3 linked regions of the Homo sapiens genome follow. The protein of the gene in region 3 purifies or fractionates together with the protein of the main gene of each other region. This does not show direct contact. Each region holds a gene or a part of one and is shown on either strand. Other genes may lie near its edges.

Region 1 (7,036 bases), on a different chromosome or scaffold from region 3:
GTAACACAAGCAAAACTTACAGGTCGTTCAACAAGGTCATCTCGGCGGGTGATTTCTACCGGAAAAGCATTTCCTCGGTATCTGACATTGTACCAATGAGCCTGCAAAACACACAGTGTGCTAACTAGAGTTCTACATCCAGGAAAGTCTATTCTTCTGTGGATTCACCCATAATGATCATCTCCTGGCTGTTAGGAAATTCATGTGAGCAGCGACCCAACCCTGCCCCACTCACCACGTGGATCTTCAGGTCAATGGAGAGGCGGATGTGGTAGGGAACATCGTACTCGCGCATGTCCACAATGTTGTCCAACTGGTCAGCTATCTTCTTAGAGGTTTCCTCTTCATCAGTAATGACACCGCCCCTCTGCAGAACACTAGGAATTAACAAGAGAGCAACTAACTCAGCTGCCAGGGTCTGGAGGAGGTGAGACCAGAGTTCCAACTCAGTAGGAAGAGGTGAGACCAGAGTTCAAACCGAGGAAACACAAAAGGTAAATTGATGTGGTTTCAACGACCAAGGCAGTCCTTCCTTTAAGAATGGCTTGGACTGGGCCAGGCGTGGCAGCTCACGCCTGTAATCCCAGCACTTTGGGAGGCCAAGGAAGGCGGATCACCCGAGGTCAGGAGTTCGAGACGAGCCTGGCCAACACGACGAAACCTCATCTCTACTAAAAATACAAAAATTAGCCAGGCGTGGTGGCGCATGTCTGTAACCCCAGATACCTGGGAGGCTGAGGCAGGAGAATCACTTGAACCCAGGAGGCGGAGGTTGCAGTGAACCCAGATTGCGCCACTGCACTCCAGCCTGGGCAACAGAGCGAGACTCCATCTCAAAAAAATAAAGAATAGCTTGGATGATAACTCTACAGACAGGAGAAAATTCAGTGTAAGATGTATTCATTTTATATGATGTGAGTTACACCCCAACTAGAAAAAAAAAAAGAGGGCCAAGCATGGTGGCTTATGCCTCTAATCCCAGCACTCTGGGAGGCAGGAGGATCGCTTCGGCCCAGGAGTTCAAGACAGGCCTGGGCAACATAGGGAGACTCATCTCTACAAAAGTAATAATAATAATAATAATAATTAGCCAGGCATGGGGTACACACCTGTGATCCCAGTTACTCAGGAGGCTGAGGTGAAAGGATCGCTTGAGCCCAGGAGTTCGAGGCCACAGTGAGCTATGATTGCACCACTGCACTCCAGCCTGGGCAACAGAGCAAGACCCTGTCTCAAAACAAATAAGTAAATAGAAGAAAAAAGAAAGAAAACATTAAGTGCTGCCAGTCAGGAGAGCCAGGCATGACCATCCCACCATGGTCCTGATACTCAGGAGGCTGCCTCATGCAGGCTGAAGAGCAGGCCTGGGCTTCACACAGCCTGTGCATGGGTCTCTGCCATGTCTAAAGAAGTGGCCCACCATTGCGGCCACTATTGGCCTATAAGCTCAAATACTGAACGGGCTATTCAGGGGGAAAAAGACAGACGAGTCTCAGATATGGCTCAAGTCTCTGAGGACTCAGTCTCTGATCACACCTTCCAATATTTCAAAAAGCAACTTGTGGCATTGCCAGGGAAGGCGGACTCCGGGTAGGGACTGTAGAAATGTTCAGCATCCCAAACTGATCCTCTTTTGTCAGAGGGTAAGGTAGGTTCTTCCGAAGTCATCTAAACTTCATTACTCAAGATTTTCTCTTCCTAACTGGTTACTTTGCATCCTATTATTGTTGATGCTCAAATACTTGAAGAACAGTGTTTAGTGTTCTAGGCTTAAATTTCTGTGGACGATACCCAAGGTTCTCTGGAGATGTGCTGTGTAAATCTCAGCACTTAATGAAATTCATAGATGGATTGTGTTAGGGCAGTAGGATGAGGGATCTTTTCCCCTCTAAGGTGACTTTACTATTACAACCACTCAATTTTAGAGCCATAAACCCACCCCTCCATTGGAAAAGAGAGCTAACACATAAAATATAACCTGGGAAGCCACTGTTTATTTAACACAGAACATACAGAAATCTCTACCTAATTGCTCAAGTTTTCCGTATCAAACAGAGCCAGCCATTAAGGTAACTTTGTTGCTACGTGTTCCTGTCTCCTATCCATCTTGTCGTTCTGAACCGCTGATGCTTTGCTCACAAGACCAAAGTTTACCTGGAAAGCAGAGCTGTGTACGCGTCGCTGGCGTGATCCTGCTCCCTGTTCTTCTTCACGGCAGGGGAGATCTCCTTCCTCACTTTGACAAGATCCTCCACAGTGTGGAAGGACAGCCTGATGTAATTTCGCTTCAAACCCACCAAGTGATTTGGCTATAATGCGAAGAGATCACGCTCATTGGTTCAAGAGAAATAGGACTTTATGGGTGAGAGGGTAAACACTCAAAGGTAAACACACAAGTCAAAGAGTTGGCGACTTCAAGGCACCTTGTCCAACTCTGCACGTGGCACCAACTAACACCACTAGAGCTCTTTGGAAGGAATTTTATAGACGGTCACCACACCGCCCCATCACCCAACAGATGACCTGAATTTCTACCTCTTCCGATCCCACCTGCCAGGAACAATGTAGACTCTGGCCTCATTTACCCCTGGAAAGTCTGGGTGATACTCACCAAGTCCAGATCCTCTTTGGGGACAGTCTCCACTTTTGCAATTTTGCCCTGAAACTTCTTGGAGAGAAAAGATGAAACTTCTCGCTCACAACCCTAATCAGGATCAGAATGAAAAGGCTTTCCATTGGTAAAATACATTTCCTTCCTTGCCTATTTCCCAGTTGCAAAGCCCACCACAGAATGACACACAGGTCGTCTGACCTGAGTCTATGAAACACACTCACCTTTCTGGTCGCAATGTAGAAATACGGTTTATAGGGCAAAGCCACCTGTTAAGAGTCACCAACCCATCCAGGGGTGATGAGAAAGAAGAAAGCGAGAGAAAAGTGAAAACACATTGCTTGCTCCTATATCCCATGAACAGCCTAGGGCCAGGGTAGCCTTGACCTTGGTAGCATACAGGAAGTCAGAATGCGCACTTTTCACAGGGGCAAGAATCTGAAAGACACGCTACTTCTCACCATTCAGAGTCTTCCTGAACTGACCTCTCTCAGGACATCTTACGTGATGACTGATGGGGCCTCCAGGGGCCCGAGTTCTGCTGGGCTATGGGCTGCTGTGCACTGGAAGCCTCCCATGCCCTCCCTGACAGTCACAGAGCTACATGAACACCCATAAAAGTGGGTTTTAGCTTGTCGCAGTCAGGGGCTTACCTTAAATCTGCTTCCGTCATCTTGAATAAAGTAGTAATCCACTGCACTGCCTAAGCGCTTATCTTCATCTAAAATCTCGGTCTACAAGAGAATCAGTCAACACAGACACAAGACCATCCTCTACACAGTTAGAGAAACTTTCCTCCTACCTTTCGGGAAACTCAGCACTTTAGAAACAAACCCTCTCATCTAGGTCTTTACTCCACCCCTACATTAACACTACCAGCCTTATTCACAAGAACCACACTGTAACGGCCTCCAAATGGGGATCTCTCTCAATTTCTCCCTCATAATCCTTGAAAGCTTTATTCTGATGGCTAAAAGAGATGCCCATCACCTCCGGCTTCTCACAGTGGCCTCTCTGTGGCCCTCAATGACGTTAAAGAGGAAAGGAGAGCTGGGAACCTTCACATCTCCCACCTGATTCACTCAAAGTTCCCTCATGTGTCCCCCACTCTTTAGATAAGGACCACGCTATGACCAGAAGGGTTGCAGCCATATTCCTGGGTGGGAGAAGGACCTAGTGCTTACAGGATGCATGTTAATGAGCCAGCCTGTCTTCTCACCAGGCTCCTTCAGCCGCTCAAAACCAAACCGCAAATCCATCTTATCCGTCCACTGACTCCGTTCCAGGCGCTTGAGTGCCGAAACTGAGGAAGTGGCGCCATCATCCCTGAGTGAAAGAAGGGAACCCCGTGCTTAATTTGTAATGCCACCTGCTGCTGCTTCTTTTTTTCTTTTTTTTCTTTTTTTTTGAGACGGAGTCTTGCTCTGTCGCCTAGGCTGGAGTGCAGTGGTGTGATCTCGGCTCACTGCAAGCTCCGCCTCCCGGGTTCACGCCATTCTCCTGCCTCAGCCTCCCGAGTAGCTGGGACCACAGGCGACAGCCACCACGCCTGGCTAATTTTTTGTATTTTTAGTAGAGACGGGGTTTCACCGTGTTAGCCAGGATGGTCTCGATCTCCTGACCTTGTGATCCGACTGCCACCTACTTCTGCAACCCTCATCCCACCTAGTGTTAAGTGTTTCGGATATGACAGGGTATATATATTCCTGAAAAACCCCGAGCTTGGAAAAAGGCTCATTAAGATAAAAGGACTCATTGGAAAAACACAATTAGGGCAGGCCCTTCAAAACCTGTTCAACTTTATAACCAGAATACTAACAAAAAGAGTCATGATGGCTAGACACTGTTGCCTCTTGGGACACTAAAAATGCATAAAACTAGCCAGACGCGGTGGCTCATGAGAGTGCATGTAACACTGACATGATTTGAATAAAACAGACGGATTGTCAGGCCAGGCACAGTGGCTCACGCCTGTAATCCCAAAACTTTGGGAGGCCAAGGCGGGTGGATCACCTGAGGTCAGGAGTTTGAGACCAGCCTGGCCAGCATGGTGAAACCCTGTCTCTACTAAAAATACAAAAAATTAAATCCCAGCACCGTGGGAGGCCGAGGCGGGCGGATCACGAGGTGAGGAGATCTAGACCATCCTGCTAATACAGTGAAACCCCGTCTTTACTAAAAATACAAAAACTTAGCCAGGCGTGGTGGTGGGTGCCTATAGTCCCAGCTACTCAGGAGGCTGAGGCAGGAGAATGGCGTGAACCCAGGAGGTGGAGCTTGCAGTGAGCCGAGAACGCGCCACCACACTCCAGCCTGGGCAGCAGAGCGAGACTCCGGCAAAAAAAAAAAAATAAATAAAAATAAATAAATAAATAAATAAATTAGCTGGGTGTGGTGGGGTGGGCCTATAATCCCAGCTACTCAGGAGGCTGAGGCAGGAGAATCACTTGAACCCTAGAGGTGGAGGTTGCAGTGAGCCAAGATTGCGCCACTGCACTCCAGCCTGGGTGACAAGAGTGAAACTTCGTCTCAAAAAAATAAATAAAATAAAATAAGATAAAATAAATTAGATGGGTCGTCTCAATGTCAATTTCTTAGTTGTGACAATTGTACTCTACTTACACAAGATGTTATGGTGAAGTGATACGGGAATCTCTGTATCATTTCTGACAAATGCATGAGAATCAATCTACAATTACCTCAAAAAAAGGTTGAGGGCCAGGCGCAGTGGCTCACAACTGTAATCCCAGCACTTTGGGAGGCCAAGGAGGGTGGATGACTTGAGGCCAGGAGTTTGAGACCATCCTGGCTAACATGGTGAAACCCCGTCTCTACTAAAAATACGAAAAATTAGCCGGGCGTGGTGGCGGGCGCCTGTAGTCCCAGCTACTCGGGAGGCTGAGGCAGGAGAATGGCGTGAATCCAGGAGGCAGAGCTTGCAGTGAGCTGGGATCATGCCACTGCACTCCAGCCTGGGCGACAGAGCGAGACTCCGTCTAAAAAAAAAATAAAATAAAAAAAGAACAAGATAAAAAAAGAAAGGAAGACCCTTCCTTTGTCTGAAGGTATTCCTTGGATCACCTTCAACTCAAGAGCAGAATGACCATATTCCAAGACTAGGATCCTTACTTCTCATGAAAGATTATAACCACTTGTGGTAGGCAGGCAGGATGACACCCCCCATGAAAGACCCACATCCTAATCCCCCAAACCTGTGAATGTTATCTTACAAGACAAAAGGGTCTTTGCAGATCTGACTAAATTAAGGGCCTTGAGATTCTGCTTAGCTGGGTGGGCGCAGTGTAATCACAAGAATCCTTGTAGAGTGAGGCAGGAGAGCTAGAGTCAGGAAGGAGAAAGGGATGGGAGAGAGAGGGTAGGGGGGAGAGGAGATGCAACCCTTGGTTCTGAAGATGAAGAAGCAGCAAGGAAACAGATTCTCCCCCGGGAACCATCACAATAAATATAACCAACCAGACACTTTCATATTACGACTTCTGACTTCTAAAACCGTAAGAGAATAAATTTATATAGTCACTAAGTGATCATGTGTTACTGCAGCAATAGGAAACTGATACACCACCATACTGTATAATAAAGGTTTAATCTTTTAAATAGTTGAATGCACCCGTAATCAAAAACACAGAAAAACTATATTCCAAATCTTGCTAGAGAACAGCCTCAGTTCTGAGTCCCAGATCTTTATCAAAATCAAGAGTGAATGAAGTGCTATTTACGAGGCATCACCTCTTAACAGGGGCGCACGGCCCTCTATGCCAGTCCTCCAAATATCCTTGCCTCAAGTAAGTTGGATTAAGTAGACTAGAAAACTGCTCACTGGGACCATATTTCCTCCCAAAACTGCTTTCTCTGAGCTGTGTATCTCACTTTTAATCCAGGGACAGTAAGAAATCTGAAAAATGGGGATAAGTGTCACACAGGGAGCTACCATCGACTGGTTACTATATCACACCGTCCCAGTACTCCACACAGGCTCTCATTCACAGAGAGCTACCATTGACTGGTTACTATATCACACCGTCCCAGTACTCCACACAGGCTCTCATTCACAGAGAGCTACCATTGACTGGTTACTGTATCACACCGTCCCAGTACTCCACACAGGCTCTCATTCACAGAGAGCTACCACTGACTGGTTACTGTATCACACCGTCCCAGTACTCCACACAGGCTCTCATTCACAGAGAGCTACCATTGACTGGTTACTGTATCACACCGTCCCAGTACTCCACACAGGCTCTCATTCACAGAGAGCTACCATTGACTGGTTACTGTATCACACCGTCCCAGTACTCCACACAGGCTCTCATTCACAGAGCTACCATTGACTGGTTACTATATCACACCGTCCCAGTACTCCACACAGGCTCTCATTCACAGAGAGCTACCATTGACTGGTTACTG
Region 2 (7,036 bases), on a different chromosome or scaffold from region 3:
TACTGTAGGAAGACAGTCAGAGTCTGATTTTTGTTTCCCGTGATGTCTGGGGAGAGGAAAGTCAAGTATCAGGTGCTTTCCAAACACTGGATACTTTGTGGGTTTTTCTGCAGGATTTGATCATCCCTGCTCAGCTGGTTCCTTTGTCTCCCATGAGCATTTCAAATATTTCTTCTCATTCCTTCAAATATTCCTTCTTTAAAATTTATTGATGGCCTATTTTGTTGTATAGGACTTGTTTGAGCTATTACTTTTACAAATTTTTTTATTAGTAGTAGTTGAACATGGATGAACTATTTTTATGTAGTCAAGTATATCATTTTTTTTCTGTTTAATGTGTCCTCATCCCCATGATTTTTTTTTTTTTTTTGAGACACAGTCTCTGTCGCCCAGGCTGGAGTGCAGTGGTGTGATCTTGGCTCACTGCAGCCTCCGCCTCTGGCGTTCAAGTGATTCTCCTGCGTCAGCCTCCCAAGTAGCTGGGATTACAGGCACCCACCACCACACCCAGCTAATTTGTGCATTTTTAGTAGAGTCGGGGTTTCACCATGTTGGCCAGGCTGATGTTGAACTCCTGACCTCAGGTGATCCACCCACCTCCGCTTTCCAAAGCGCTGAGATTACAGGCATGAGCCACTGCAGTAGCCTACATTTCTAATTTTAGAGCTTCTAGTAGCCATATTAAAAGGTAAGAAGAAACAGATAAAATCATATTTTCTTTAATCCAATGTCTAAGATATTATCCTTTCAATGTGTGATGAATATAAGAAATTATTAACATGGAATTTTACACTCTTTTCTTGGATTAAGTCTTCTAAAGCCAGTGACTGTTTTGCCCTTGGCACATCTCCGATTGAACTTGCTACATTTCAAGGGCTCAATTGCTACACATGGCTGGTGGCGGCTACACTGGGTAGCACGGGCTCAGCTGATCTTCCCAGACGTGCCCTGAGTAGGTATTGCTGCATTTTACAGATGGGAGCTCTGAGGTACACAGAGGGAAACGCTTGCCTGAAGTCACCAGCTAGGAAGCGTGTGGCTGGGATGTAAACCTGAAATGGTCTGACCCCAGATAAATTGTACCTGCTTAACCCTTGTGGCTCCTCTCTCTCATCTTTTCATACAAAATGTTCATGAGCACAATTTTACAACAGAAAAAAGCTGTCCATGGAAAACACGTGAATGTCCCCCTGGAGGGCAAGTGGTGAAGGTAGTTTAACATCATCACAGAGAAGCCCTGAGCAAAGGGCAGACCAGAAACACTGCGCGTGGGTGGGGACCGATCGAACAAAAGAGAAAAGCAATTCAAAGCCACAAGACGGATTAGTCAGTGTTGACATGTGGAGACAACTGCTTTGTCCTTTGTTTAAAAACACTCAGATCACCTCCTTCCTCTCTGACACACACTCTTGCAAGGTCCAGCTGGAACTGATTTCAAAGCAAAACACAAAACTGTAAATGTGCTGGAAAAACTCAGTGAAAACTTTTGGAATTCTAAGGAAAGGAGGACTTTTTTTTTTTTTTTTAATTATCTTGGGGATGAGGCTGGATGCAGTGGCTCACGCCTGTAATCCCAACACTTTGGGAGGCTGAGGTGGGTGGATCTCTTGTGATGTGCACCTGTAGTCCCAGCTACTCGGGAGGCCGACGCAAGACAGTCGCTTGAATTCAGGAGGCGGAGGCTGCAGTCAGCCAAGATCGCACCACCGCACTCCAGCCTGGGCGACAGAGCGAGATTCCGTCTCAAAAAAACAAAAACAAAAAACAAAACTGATGAGATGCCCGTAAAGTGTTAATTCAAGCTCCAGCAAGGCCGCAGCCCCCCGTCTGATGCTCCTGAAGTCACCGACTCTAAATGGTGTCGGGCCCTCTTGCCAGTGACTAGCCCCATGCTTTAAGCTCTCAGAATCCTTCTGACATCAGGGTTCTTCCCTCTCAAGGCTTTCCACGAACCCTGTCACTAGTTGTGACCCGCACATGTCCTGTTCGCCTCACATTTAGGGCTTATTGTCTTTATTCTCACAAAGATGTCTCATCTCTCTTCTCCCTGCCGGCCCTGCAGTCCCTGGTACGTGAGCCCCTTTCCCGGCGCCGGCAGCTGCTCCGGGAGAACTTTGTGGAGACAGAGGGCGAGTTTGTCTTCGCCACCTCCCTGGACACCAAGGACATCGAGCAGATCGCCGAGTTCCTGGAGCAGTCAGTGAAAGGTGAGGGTGCTCACTTTTCTCTCCTGAGGTCTGCAGCTTGCGCTGACCCCGGCCTCCCAGCCTGTCCCCAGTCCTGGACCGTTTGACCAGAATCCTGCCTGCTCCGGCGCTTGTGAGCCAGGGCTTCCCAAGGACCACGCTTCTGTGTCTCCCTCAGACTCCTGCGAGGGGCTGATGGTGAAGACCCTGGATGTTGATGCCACCTACGAGATCGCCAAGAGATCGCACAACTGGCTCAAGGTGATTCTCGACCCCCAACTGGGCCTTCTCCACCCCGGGTCTGGAGGTCTGTCCCAGCTAGGCAGTGGATTTCGAGCCTCCACTGTGTACCCTGTCTGAGCTCAGGGCCCCTTTTCACAATCCCACCCCAGCCCCCTGCTGCAACTGAGTTCAGACCTTCTCCCTGCTGCGAGCCCTTGCTCACGAGTTCTGATGGAGAACAGCCCCAGCCCAAGCACCGCACATCCCACGAGGTGCAGCGTGATGAGGTGTCTCTCTCCTGAGCCTGCCGCCCGTGTCGGGCCAGGCTCTTGGGCAGGAATTAAGCCAGGACATGAATAAGAGAAAGTCAGGCAGGAGTGGGCGCCATGAAGAAAAGCAAGTCAGCTCCGGGCCAGCAAGGCGGGGCTGGGAGTGCCCCGGATGATCAGGAAGAGTCTTTCCCAAAGTGAGGGACAGAGCACTAGGGAGGAAAACCCCCGGTGCAGAGACCCTGAGGGAGGAGCAGCCTCTGCGTGTGCAGGGAGCAAGGGCAGGCGAGGCGGGAGGTGAGCTCAGAGTGGGGAGCAGGCCCCAGATGAGGCAGCACCTGGGGCCACTGTGAGATAAAACTGGATCTTCCTCTTGAAGGTTTCAGGAAGTCAGTGGGGGTTCCGTGCCGGGAGTCACAGGTTGTCATTGTGCGAAGCTCCTGGGGTTTCCCCTCGAGTGGAGGACGGGTGTGTTGAGGGCCAGCGAGCAGGAGCCTGTCATCAGTAAGAGTTGATGGATGTTTGAGTGGAGAGGGGCAGTGAGGGGTGGACAAGGGGACTGGAGCGGGAGGCATTGTGGCACTGAGCCGGCCAGGCCTGCTGACTAGCTCTTCCTGTGTACTTATGTCTGTCTGTGGCTGGTTTCCCTCCAGCACAGACCTTTCCTGTCTCAGGAAATAGCACTGTTGTGCCCCCAGGGCTGAGCTTCTGCCTGGCACATGGTTAGCACTTAGTGAACGTTTCTGAACGAATGGGAAAATGCTCTCCCTTTGGAGGAGTGGCCAGAGTGAGTTGGCCACGTCTCTGTCCTGAGGGAAAGACGGCGGCAAGGCTGACTCCTGAGGTCCCATCGATCCCGCCTGCGTTTCCCATTTGTTCTTATTTATTTATTTATTTATTTTAAGACGGAGTTTCACTCTCATTGCCCAGGCTGGAGTGCAATGGCACGATCTTGGCTCACTGCAACCTCCGCCTCCCGGGTTCAAGCGATTCCCCTGCCTCAGCCTCCCAAGTAGCTGGGATTACAGGCACACGCCACCACGCCCGGCTAATTTTGTATTTTTAATAGAGACGGGGTTTCTCCATGTTGGTCAGACTGGTCTCGAACTCCCGACCTCAGGTGATCCACCCGCCTCGGCCTCCCAAAATGCTGGGATTACAGGCATGAGCCACCGTGCCCGGCCCCATTTGTTCTTATTTAAACCTAGAAACCCTTCCCATGTCCAGTCTCTTCCCAGGGGCCATCCTTGGGGTTCCTTCTGGAAGTTCCCTTCAGACTTACTTCTAGTCCCTCCTCAGTCCACTGAGGAGCCCCTCCCCAGCAGTGAGGGCCCCGCCTTGGGCGCTCCCCCTTCTCATCTCTTGCCTCCCCTTCTCCCAGCTGAAGAAGGACTACCTTGATGGCGTGGGTGACACCCTGGACCTGGTGGTGATCGGCGCCTACCTGGGCCGGGGGAAGCGGGCCGGCCGGTACGGGGGCTTCCTGCTGGCCTCCTACGACGAGGACAGTGAGGAGCTGCAGGCCATATGCAAGGTCCTGGGGAACTGGGGCTGATGGCAGAAGCAGGAGGGAAGGAGATTAGACTCCCGGGGGTATTTCCTATTGCACAACCCAGACCGAGGGGTGCTCACATCCCCCTGTGAAGGATCCGTTCTCCCCAGTTTTTATTTACTTTTTCTGGTTCTATGAGCAACTCTTGCTTCATATAGAAAAACAGGCTGGGATAGAAAGATGTCAGGAATGTGTGTCAGTGAGAGATTGAGATTAGCTACAAATAGTGGTGGCTCACATAAGAAAAGAATTTTTTTGTTATGAAATGAGAAGTGTGGAGGGGGCAGTCTGATGCCATTAGGGATTCAGGTTCCTCCTCTCCCCACATTTTTTTTTGTCCCCACATTTTTTTTTTCTGCCATGTGCCTCTGGCCTCATCATCACAATGTGGCTGCAGGAGTTCCAGCCCTCATGGCCATGCCTGCTCCACGCACCAGGGAAGAGCAAAGGGGGTTGGACCCTGAGTCAGCCTCAGCCAGTGAACACCTTCTGCTCAAGTTCTGTTGCTCATCACTTTGCTCCATGGCTCACCCCTAGCTGCAAGGAATTCTGGGAAATGTAAAGTGATTTACTTTTTTTCAAGTTAAAGTTTTTCTTAAAGCTGTGCACATTTTGGACTAGATTTTCTTACGTATTTCCTATATTCCCCTCTCCAACAAATTTGGGTCTTTTGCCACAGAAACAGAACAAAATATCACCTAGAATCGTACCACCCAGAGACACGCAGTAGTGACATTTGAGGGAATGTTTTATTTACATTTTTGCAAAGTTGTGATCCTTCTCTATGAGTAATTTTCTTTTCTGCCTTTTTACCCTGGAAGTACTTTGTTTTCAGTGTTGTATATGCCCTTAAGCAATATGGCAACAGGACCTGAATGCCCGCACAAGAGTTTTCAAGTGCTGTGCCCCATAGCACATAGTGCTGTGTCCTGAACCAGCTCCCCGTGGCTGTGTGGGGAAGTTGTTGCCGGCTTTGTTCTGATGGGTAATGTGATTACTTAGTGTCCGTTAACCTAAACGATCAGTGACAGAAGTGACTTTTATAAATCACAAATGTTTTGGCCACCAATCTACATTGTCACCATTTTGCATTATTTAGAATAGATTTTTAAATGAGCTATTGTCAGGACAAAAGGCAAAAAGAATCCTTAAGACTCTCAATGCAAAAGGGGCTTTCCAGGTGACGTTTATATTGGTGATTATTGCCCACTTGCTGCGTATCTGCCAGCATCCAGCATTACTGCTAATTTTTAGCCTTTCCTATTTTGGTAGGTGAAAGAAGCTCTTGGCAGTGTTAACATTGGAGATGGGCTGGGCATGGCCACTCACGCCTGTAATCCCAGCACTTTGGGAGGCTGAGGTGGGAGGATCACTTGAGCCCAGGAGTTCGGGACCAGCCTGGGCAACATAGTGAGACCCCACCTCTACAAAAACTTTTTTAAAAAATTAGCCAGGCGTGGTGGTGCATGCCTGTGGTCCCAGCTACTTGGGAGGCTGAGGCAGGAGGATTGCTTGAGCCCAGGAGGTGGAGGTTGCAGTGAGCCAAGATTGCACCACTGCACTCCAGCCTGGATAACAGAGCTACACCCTGTCTCAAAAAAAAAAAAAAAAAAAAAAAAAAAGACTGGAAGTGAGGACAGCCAGTTACTGGGCAGTGAGGATGTGGGTGAGCATAAGGGAGTGACTTCCTGGGGCCAGGGAGACAGTGGAAGCAGCAAGAGTTTCTCCATAAAGCAGAAGACAGGGAGTGGTTCACGGCAGGCCTGCTGGGAGAACATTCCCACCCGGGAGTCTCTGGATGGATGCTCCGCACCCCCAGCTCCCTACTTCCCTGGTTTTCTGTGGATACTGCGTAGACCAGAGTGGGGTGGGGGCCATGAGTGTACACAGCTTTAGATGGCAGGAGCAAGTGCTGGGCCTGTGGCTGGCTGAGCCTCTGACCTCCCGCTTCCTCCCTGCAGCTTGGAACTGGCTTCAGTGATGAGGAGCTGGAGGAGCATCACCAGAGCCTCAAGGTGAGCCATGGCGGCTGCGCCTCAGCCTCCACCCCTCTCCCCCCTGCCCCTGACAGCACAGTCCTTCCATGCAGGGCTCTTGGCTTCCACCATCTTGGGGCTCCAGGTGTGGGCAGGAGGGCAGCAGGCAGTGGAGCTGGCTTTGGAGTCCAGCATCTCCAGGTTCATGTCTCAGCACTGCCGGCTACTAGCTGGTGACCCTGCTCAAGCAGCCTCACCTCCCCAAGCCCTGTGCCTCATTCACACCAGGGGTTAGCCAAAGGACACAGCAGGTGCCATAGCTGCTCCTTGTGAAGTGCCTGTGAGCCCTGATCAATGTGAATGAATGTTGTCATGGTCACAGGCATTTCAGGCATGAGTGTCTGTCCTACATATTGGATCTGTATTAGTTTATTTTCATACTCATACTGCTATGAAGAAATAACCCAAGACTTGCCGGGCGTGGTGGCGCATGCCTGTGGTCCCAGCTACTTGGGAGGCTGAGGCAGAAGAATTGCTTGAACCCAGGATGCAGAGGTTGCAGTGAGCTGAAATCATGCCATTGCACTCCAGCCTGGGAAACAGAGTGAGACTCTGTCTCAAAAAAAAAAAAAAAAAAAAAAGGATCATTTATAAAGAGAGGTTTCCTGGACTCACAGTTCCACACGGCTGGGGAGGCCTCACAGTCATGGCAGAAGGCGAAAGAGGAGCAAAGGCACATCTTACATGGCGCCAGGCAAGAGAGCGTGTGCAGGGGAACTGCCCTTTATAAAGCCGTCAGATCTCGTGAGACTTCCTCACTATCACGAGAAC
Region 3 (7,036 bases):
GACCCTACAAGTGAGAACCAATGAGCTTTCAGAAGGGGCACAGGACATTAGGACCAGCCTTTGTATGGTGCTTTCTACTGACCAAGTTAATTTTCATACCTAGAACCTCATATACACCTCACAACTCTGGGAGAAGGTAGTTTTCTCATCCCCATATTACAGATGAAGACTCTAAGGCGCAGAGAGATTAAGTGACTTGTCCAAGGTCATAGAATTGGAAAGTAGGAATGATGGATCCCGAACCTGCATTCCTTAATTCCAAGCGCTGTGCATTGGCCCCACAGACAAGGGGCTCCTCCCAATTCTTACACAGCCATTACCTGGAGGATTTATACTACATCCTGAGGTATGTGCCTAGATTCTCCAAAATATCCCCAAATAAATGTCCTGCTATTCTGCTTCCTCATCCTCAAATAATTAAAGGAAAATCCAAACCAAAGGTAAGATCCTAACAGTGCCTTACATTTGCCCAGGCAAAGCAGCAACTCCACCACATGAGTGAGAATCTACAAGAAGCAACTAACACAGTGCCTAGGAAGCAACATCCCCGCCCCCACCTCCGCCCCACCTACCATCATCCACAATCCAGTCATCATCCTGGCGTGCCTGAACCAGCTTCGAATACTGTTCTTCATCAACTTCTTCATAAACACCTGTGAAGTCCTCGACCTACCATTATACAAGTTTCAGGAAAAAAGCTTCAAATAGAGGAGTCAAAGTGTTAAATAATTCTGATGAAAAAATTGTCAAATTGAAACTGGAATGGCAGACTGAAGGAGTAGCTGCAACCAAATCATGAGTTCTGACATTCAACACCACTACAGGGTTTTCCTTAAATAGACATCAATTAACTTAGTATTCCTTTTAGGTGGGTGTTAACATAAGATATTAAATGATTCCATTAGCATAATACACTTGTCATACCATCAATTACTCATCTATTTCATAAAAAACAAACTGAATTATAGCCAATTCTTCATTAGCTGCTTTGGGGAATTATTCACTTGTAATTTCTAGACTGGTTTCTCCTACACTTAGCAAACCTGTAAGGCATGCCACTTCCCTCTCCACTAGCTGATGTACGCTCTGCAAATAGACGATAATTTTCATGCCTGTTCAATCAACCAAATACAATTCAGAAGGAAAATCTCCCTCATCCATCCCCTTCCAAAAATTAGCAAAACAAACATATTGCATATTCTACAGGCAAACCAGAAATAGTTTTTGAGTGACCCTGTTTGTATTACCACTGAAACTCCACCATCCTCAGGTCTTGAAACCACACAAGGACTTAAACGCTGAGCTATTTGAAAGGCAAGTCCAGAGAGTGGCAGGTCCTCCAATCATATTGGCTGCCTGACTGCAAGAGGGTCAGAACACTATGAGCTACTGGTATGAGTAAAGCAGACAACCTCTGCACAGCTAAAGCAACAAATGAAAGATACACACCACTGCTGCAGCTGCCCATGGGGAAAGGCCAGTGACTTTCCAGATGAGACTCTGGTGGGCTGGTTTGCAAAATCTCATAGATACTTATTAAAAATTAACAAATGCTGGGCACAGTGGCTCACGCCTGTAATCCCAGCACTTTGGGAGGCCCAGGTGGGTGGATCACCTGAGGTCAGGAGTTTGAGGCCAGCCTGGCCAACATAGTGAAACCCCATCTCTACTAAAAATACAAAAATTAGCCAGGCGTGGTGGCATATGCCTGCAGTCCCAGCTACTCAGGAGGCTGAGGCAGGAGAATCACTTGAACCCGGGAGGTGGAGGTTGCAGTGATGCAGTGAGCCGAGATCATGCACTGCACTCCAGCCTGGGTAAGAGACCGAGTCTCCATCTCAAAAAAAAAAAAAGTACCTGATTCTCGGCCAGGTGCAGTGGCTCACGCCTGTAATCCCAGCACTTTGGGAGGCCAAGGTGAGCAGATTACTTGAGGTGAGGAGTTCAAGACCAGCCTGGCCAACGTGGTGAAACCCCATCTCTACTAAAAATACAAAAATTAGCTGGGCATGGTGGGGGGCGCCTGTAATCCCAGCTACTCAGGAGGCTGAAGCAGGAGAATCGCTTGAACCTGGGAGGTGGAGGTTGCAGTGAGCCAAGAACACACCACTGCACTCCAGCCTGGGAGAGAGAGCGAGATTAAAAAAAAAAAAAATTCTCCCATTCTCTCAAGAGTTCTACCTCAGCCGGGTGTGGTGGCTCACGCCTGTAATCCCAGCACTTTGGGAGGCCAAGGCAGGTGGATCACCTGAAGTCAGGAGTTCCAGGCCAGCCTGACCGACATGGTGAAACCCCGTCTCTACTAAAATTATAAAAATTAGCCAGGCGTGGTGGCAGACACCTGTAATCCCAGCTACTTGGGAGGCTGAAGCAGGACAATCGCTTGAACCTGGGAAGCTGAGGTTGCAGTGAGCCAAGATCATGCCATCGCACTCCAGCCTGAGCAACAAGAGCAAAACTCCACCTCAAAAAAAAAAAAAAAAAAGAGTTCTACCTTTCTCAAATGGAGTACGGGAGAAACAACTCCATCTGAAGAGTTAATACCCTAGGAAAAAACTTGGACAGAGCTTTTGGAATCCAGTGGCCAGAGCTGACTGGATTTCTGCCACACCTATAAGGCTTATAATAATTACGGGATTTGAGTTTTCACCTCCTTTTTAGCCTACTCTACAGGAATCACTGGCAAATACTGATTTGGTCTTTAACCATCTAGTAACAGAAACAACCTGCCTTACCAAATTAAGCTTTTAACAAAAGAGATGCAAAATAGTCCAATTAATATTACTATACTGACCAACTTTCTTTTTTGGGGGTGGGAGGGGAACTGGCGTTATTATTTTTGTTGGTTGAAGACAGACTTTGTCTCTTACTTAAGTGATTCACTATATTATCAAGGAGATACCAGAAAACTATTTTTAAAAATCATTTTGAGTAAAAAGTCATTTCGACTCAATCTTTAAAAACAACATTACTACTGCTCAGCATGAACTCTTAGAGCCATACAATTAACATCACAGTGTTAAAGGGAAATCAGCCACATTGTGCCAACATCTGAAATGCCCCATGGAACTCCTTTATACAAGTACCTACATTAAAAATGTTTTAGTCCTGGGCTCAGTGTGGTGGTTCACGCCTGTAATCCCAGCACTTTGGGAGGCCGAGGCGGGTGGACCATTTGAAGTCAAGAGTTCAAGACCAGCCTGACCAACATGGTGAAAGCCCGTCTCTACTAAAAATACAAAAATTAGCCAGGCGTGGTGGTGGGCGCCTGTAATCCCAGCTACTCGGGAAGCTGAAGCAGGAGAATCGCTTGAACCTGGGAGGTGGAAGCTGCAGTGAACCAAGATCGTGCCATTGCACTCCGGCCTGGGCAACAGAGAGAGACTCCATCTCAAAAACAAAAAAAATGCTTTATTCCTGTTTTACTGAAATCCTTTTAGCAACCTTTTATGATCTGGTTGCCTCACTTAACTTGAACAAATGGTGACAAATGGCAAATATTCTTTTATTTGGTTAACTGGTTAAACAGAAATATTCTGAAGCCAGACTGTCTGGGTTCAAAAAAGAATCTGCCATTGTAACCTCACTAAACTTTCTGTGCCTCGGATATCTCACCTGCAAAATGTTATTAATCATAGTATCTAATTTCATTTGGTTATTGAAAAGATTAAATGAATAAACACATTGGTAAACACACTTAGAATAATATGTTAGTTCAAAAAGTCTATCAGTTATGGTTGTTATTTTCTAGTATTGGTTAATCACTTTCTGGCCATAAGGCAATTAAGATACTCAGGAAGCCCTGAAGGTGATGCTAGACAATATTTATGCAGATGGTGGCCACTCTGTTTTTGACCTGCAGGCCATAAACAGTGGGTAGAGGAAAACCAAAAGAGCATCACATTCAATCTTACAAGCAGAACACGGCAGAAGTTAAGGTCCAAGTCTCCACTGCCACTACCCTTGCAAATGAGATTAGGAAGAACAGTTCTCTCCAAGAAGTAGCACTTAGACTGCTCAATACCTTAAGAGTAAGTAAAAGCATCTCTAAATGACCCCAACAAACCCATGGGACTTACCATAGATACAGCATGCTCAATAAGGAAAAATATAGATATGACTATGTACTTTCATTTTGGAATTTTAAAATCATCTTTAAAATACCTTATAGGAACTTTAAGGGTCGAACATTCTCCATGATCTGTAAATCTACCTCATACCCATGCTTGTCCAATACTAATAAATTCCCATTACAAAAAGTTTAAAATATATGAGTATTTCTAATCTGGGGCAAAGGTGACATAAGACTACCTGCAGGCTATGAATTAGATGATGCACAGGAAGAATAAAGAAGAAAAATGGTTACTTACTTCATATTTATACTTCTCACCAGCTTTAGCCTTTTTCAGTCTTTCTAGGGCTTCTTGGCGCCCCTTCTTTGATTTTTTTTCTCGCCGGGCTCGAGAAGATACAAAACTCCCTGAATCTGACAGAGCTGAAAAAAGAAAAAAAATTTACAACAGATGTTACAAAATTGTCAGCCATCTTCCCTCAAACACAAAGGAAAAGTTTCTAGCCAACAATAACATACAATTTTAGTAATATACAAGTAGATAATGTTTATAATGTAAATAATTCACAAAGCTCATGGCCAAACATACATATCCAAATATACATGACTCGCCAGAAAGTTCCTCCAAGATCCTGTTAAAACAATTAAAGTCACTGTTATTTTTTTCTCTAAAAAGAGGAAAATTCCCAATTCAACTGATATCCTGCGGAGACACTAAACAAGGGAGATCAGCTGTTAGCTAATTTATCACCTTTCCATTAGAAATGACCAGCCAGAAGTAATCCAGTGGGTTATAAAAGCACTATTCATTTTGCAATCTGTCAATCAATATCTAAAAGGCTTCAAGGAGCATCTACTCTTTGCAAAGTACTAGGCACTATGAGACACAAAGACAGGCTGGGCGTGGTGGCTCACACCTGTAATCCCAGCACTTTGGGAGGCTGAGGCAGGCAGATCACCCGAGGTCAGGAGTTCGAGACCAGCCTGGCCAACATGGTGAAACCCCATCTCTACTAAAAATACAAAATTAGCCAGGCATGATGGTGCATGCCTGTAACCCCAGCTACTTGGGAGGCTGAGGCAGGAGAAACACTTGAACCCGGGAGGCGGAGGCTGCAGCGAGCTGAGATCGCACCATTGCACTCCAGCCTGGGCAAAAAGAGAGAAACTCCATCTCAAAAAACAAAAAACAAAAACAAAAAACAACAACAACAAAAAAAGATAAAAAAGACATGGTCTCTGTACTCACAGAACTTACTATCTAACATGGGAGACAAGTAGCAACTGGCTCTAAACAATATTTAGAGATAATAAATGCCTTAAAAGAGATTCAGCCAAAGCACCCGGAAATTCAAAGAAGGAACAGATTGAGGGCTGGAGAAATTTAACAAAGATGGCTCTGAGGGGATTATTGGTATATCACTTATTTCAAGGCCTCAGTTGGTTATGACACAGGACATTACTAAAACAACTACAGGGACTTAAATGGTTTGTCAAAAATTACTGAAATATCAGAGGACTTCAGCGTTTATTCATTCAACTTTTGAATTATTCATGCTCCGATCATCATAAACTGACCGTTCCACACACACACTGAAAAAAATTCAAGCGGATGCAGTGGCTCACGCCTGTAATCCCAGCACTTTGGGAGGCTGAGGTGGGTGGATCACCTGAGGTCAGGAGTTTGAGACCAGCCTGACCAACATGGTGAAACCCCAACTCTACTAAAAATACAAAAATTAGCTGGGTGTGATGGCAGGCACCTGTAATCCCAACTGCTTAGGAGGCTGAGGCAGGAGAATCCCTTAAACCCAGGAGATGGAGGTTGCAGTGAGCCGAGATTGCACCACTGCACTCCAGCCTGGGTGACAGAGCGAGACTCTATCTCAAAAAAAAAAAAAAAAATTCATCCACAGAATTAAAGACTTTCACATACCCACTGATGAAAAACTAAGTCAAGCATAACAGTGCTGCCTGTCAACTACGAGTTTAGGCTCAGCATGATTGCCATCTATGTCTGTGAAATCTAGTATTTTACTGTGTTTGGTGCTAATTAATTTATAAAAAGGAGCAGGCAAAGAAAAGAAGTATGGATAAGAGGCAGCCTAAAACTCCAACCCCACTAGAATGTTCATAACAACATTAAGCTGCTTGACTAAGTGTTTGACTGAAATAGAAGATACAATTTAAAGAACATGTACCAAATGCTGGCAATAAACTGCTGGAAACTATAGCCTAAAGGTAAGGCATAATTAGAGATCTTATTTTTTTCTAGCTTTCTAGAAATGGAATCTCTCTTTATAATATCACACTCTATTGTTTGACTTTCACATTTGACTTTTAAATCCATTTTCAGAAAGACATTAAGTAAAAATTAAGGAATAAAGGTACTTAATGATGACAGCCACAAAAACTTGGATGTCACTCAAATGATTTCAAAAATCGTGAACAGGCCTACATGAAAAGGCTTTGAAGATTACTGAACATGACCCCTGAAAGTGAAAAGCGATTCCCCTCAAGACTCCCTTGATGCCTGACATCTGTAGGTCTTCAAATGCACTTACTCCATAGGCAACAATGTTCCACTACACAGGCAACAATGTTCCACTACACAGGCAACGTCCCACTACACAGGCAACAATGTTCCACTACACAGGGTTTAGGGTACAATCACAAATAAGACAGAGCTGCCTGTCCAAAAGAGGCCCCCAGTCAAGTAAAGCAAAGTACCTGAAATTACCATCACAATATAAACATGGTGCCATAGAAAAGGTAAGAACTCAGTACTGAGGAAATGTACAGAGGAGAGAGCTGTTAATTTTGCCTGGAAAATCAAGGAAGGCTTCACAGGAGAGGTTTCCAATACAGGCCTAGAAAAAGGAGTCAAATTTCACAGAGAACAAAGTAAAAAGTGGCACAAGCAAAAGAAGAGGCATGAGCCAAATTACAAAGGGATGAAAATGC

What was found. Proteins that work in one complex are often made in the same cells at the same time.
Region 1: the proteins of POLA1 (region 3) and POLE fractionate together in Homo sapiens (co-fractionation; 2 studies listed by BioGRID). This does not show direct contact.
Region 2: the proteins of POLA1 (region 3) and LIG1 fractionate together in Homo sapiens (co-fractionation; 2 studies listed by BioGRID). This does not show direct contact.

The regions. Positions count from the first base shown.
Region 1 is NC_000012.12:132,677,343-132,684,378, forward strand, and holds part of POLE (DNA polymerase epsilon catalytic subunit A), read right to left. Parts: intron 3,938-7,036; coding exon 3,796-3,937; intron 3,346-3,795; coding exon 3,265-3,345; intron 2,881-3,264; coding exon 2,836-2,880; intron 2,705-2,835; coding exon 2,612-2,704; intron 2,310-2,611; coding exon 2,155-2,309; intron 378-2,154; coding exon 236-377; intron 102-235; coding exon 21-101; intron 1-20. UniProt on the Homo sapiens protein: Catalytic component of the DNA polymerase epsilon complex. Participates in chromosomal DNA replication.
Region 2 is NC_000019.10:48,118,345-48,125,380, reverse strand, and holds part of LIG1 (DNA ligase 1), read left to right. Parts: intron 1-2,062; coding exon 2,063-2,207; intron 2,208-2,364; coding exon 2,365-2,447; intron 2,448-4,058; coding exon 4,059-4,211; exon of another isoform or gene 4,212-5,214; intron 5,215-6,190; coding exon 6,191-6,244; intron 6,245-7,036.
Region 3 is NC_000023.11:24,696,884-24,703,919, reverse strand, and holds part of POLA1 (DNA polymerase alpha catalytic subunit), read right to left. Parts: intron 4,496-7,036; coding exon 4,371-4,495; intron 670-4,370; coding exon 573-669; intron 540-572; exon of another isoform or gene 1-539. UniProt on the Homo sapiens protein: Catalytic subunit of the DNA polymerase alpha complex (also known as the alpha DNA polymerase-primase complex) which plays an essential role in the initiation of DNA synthesis.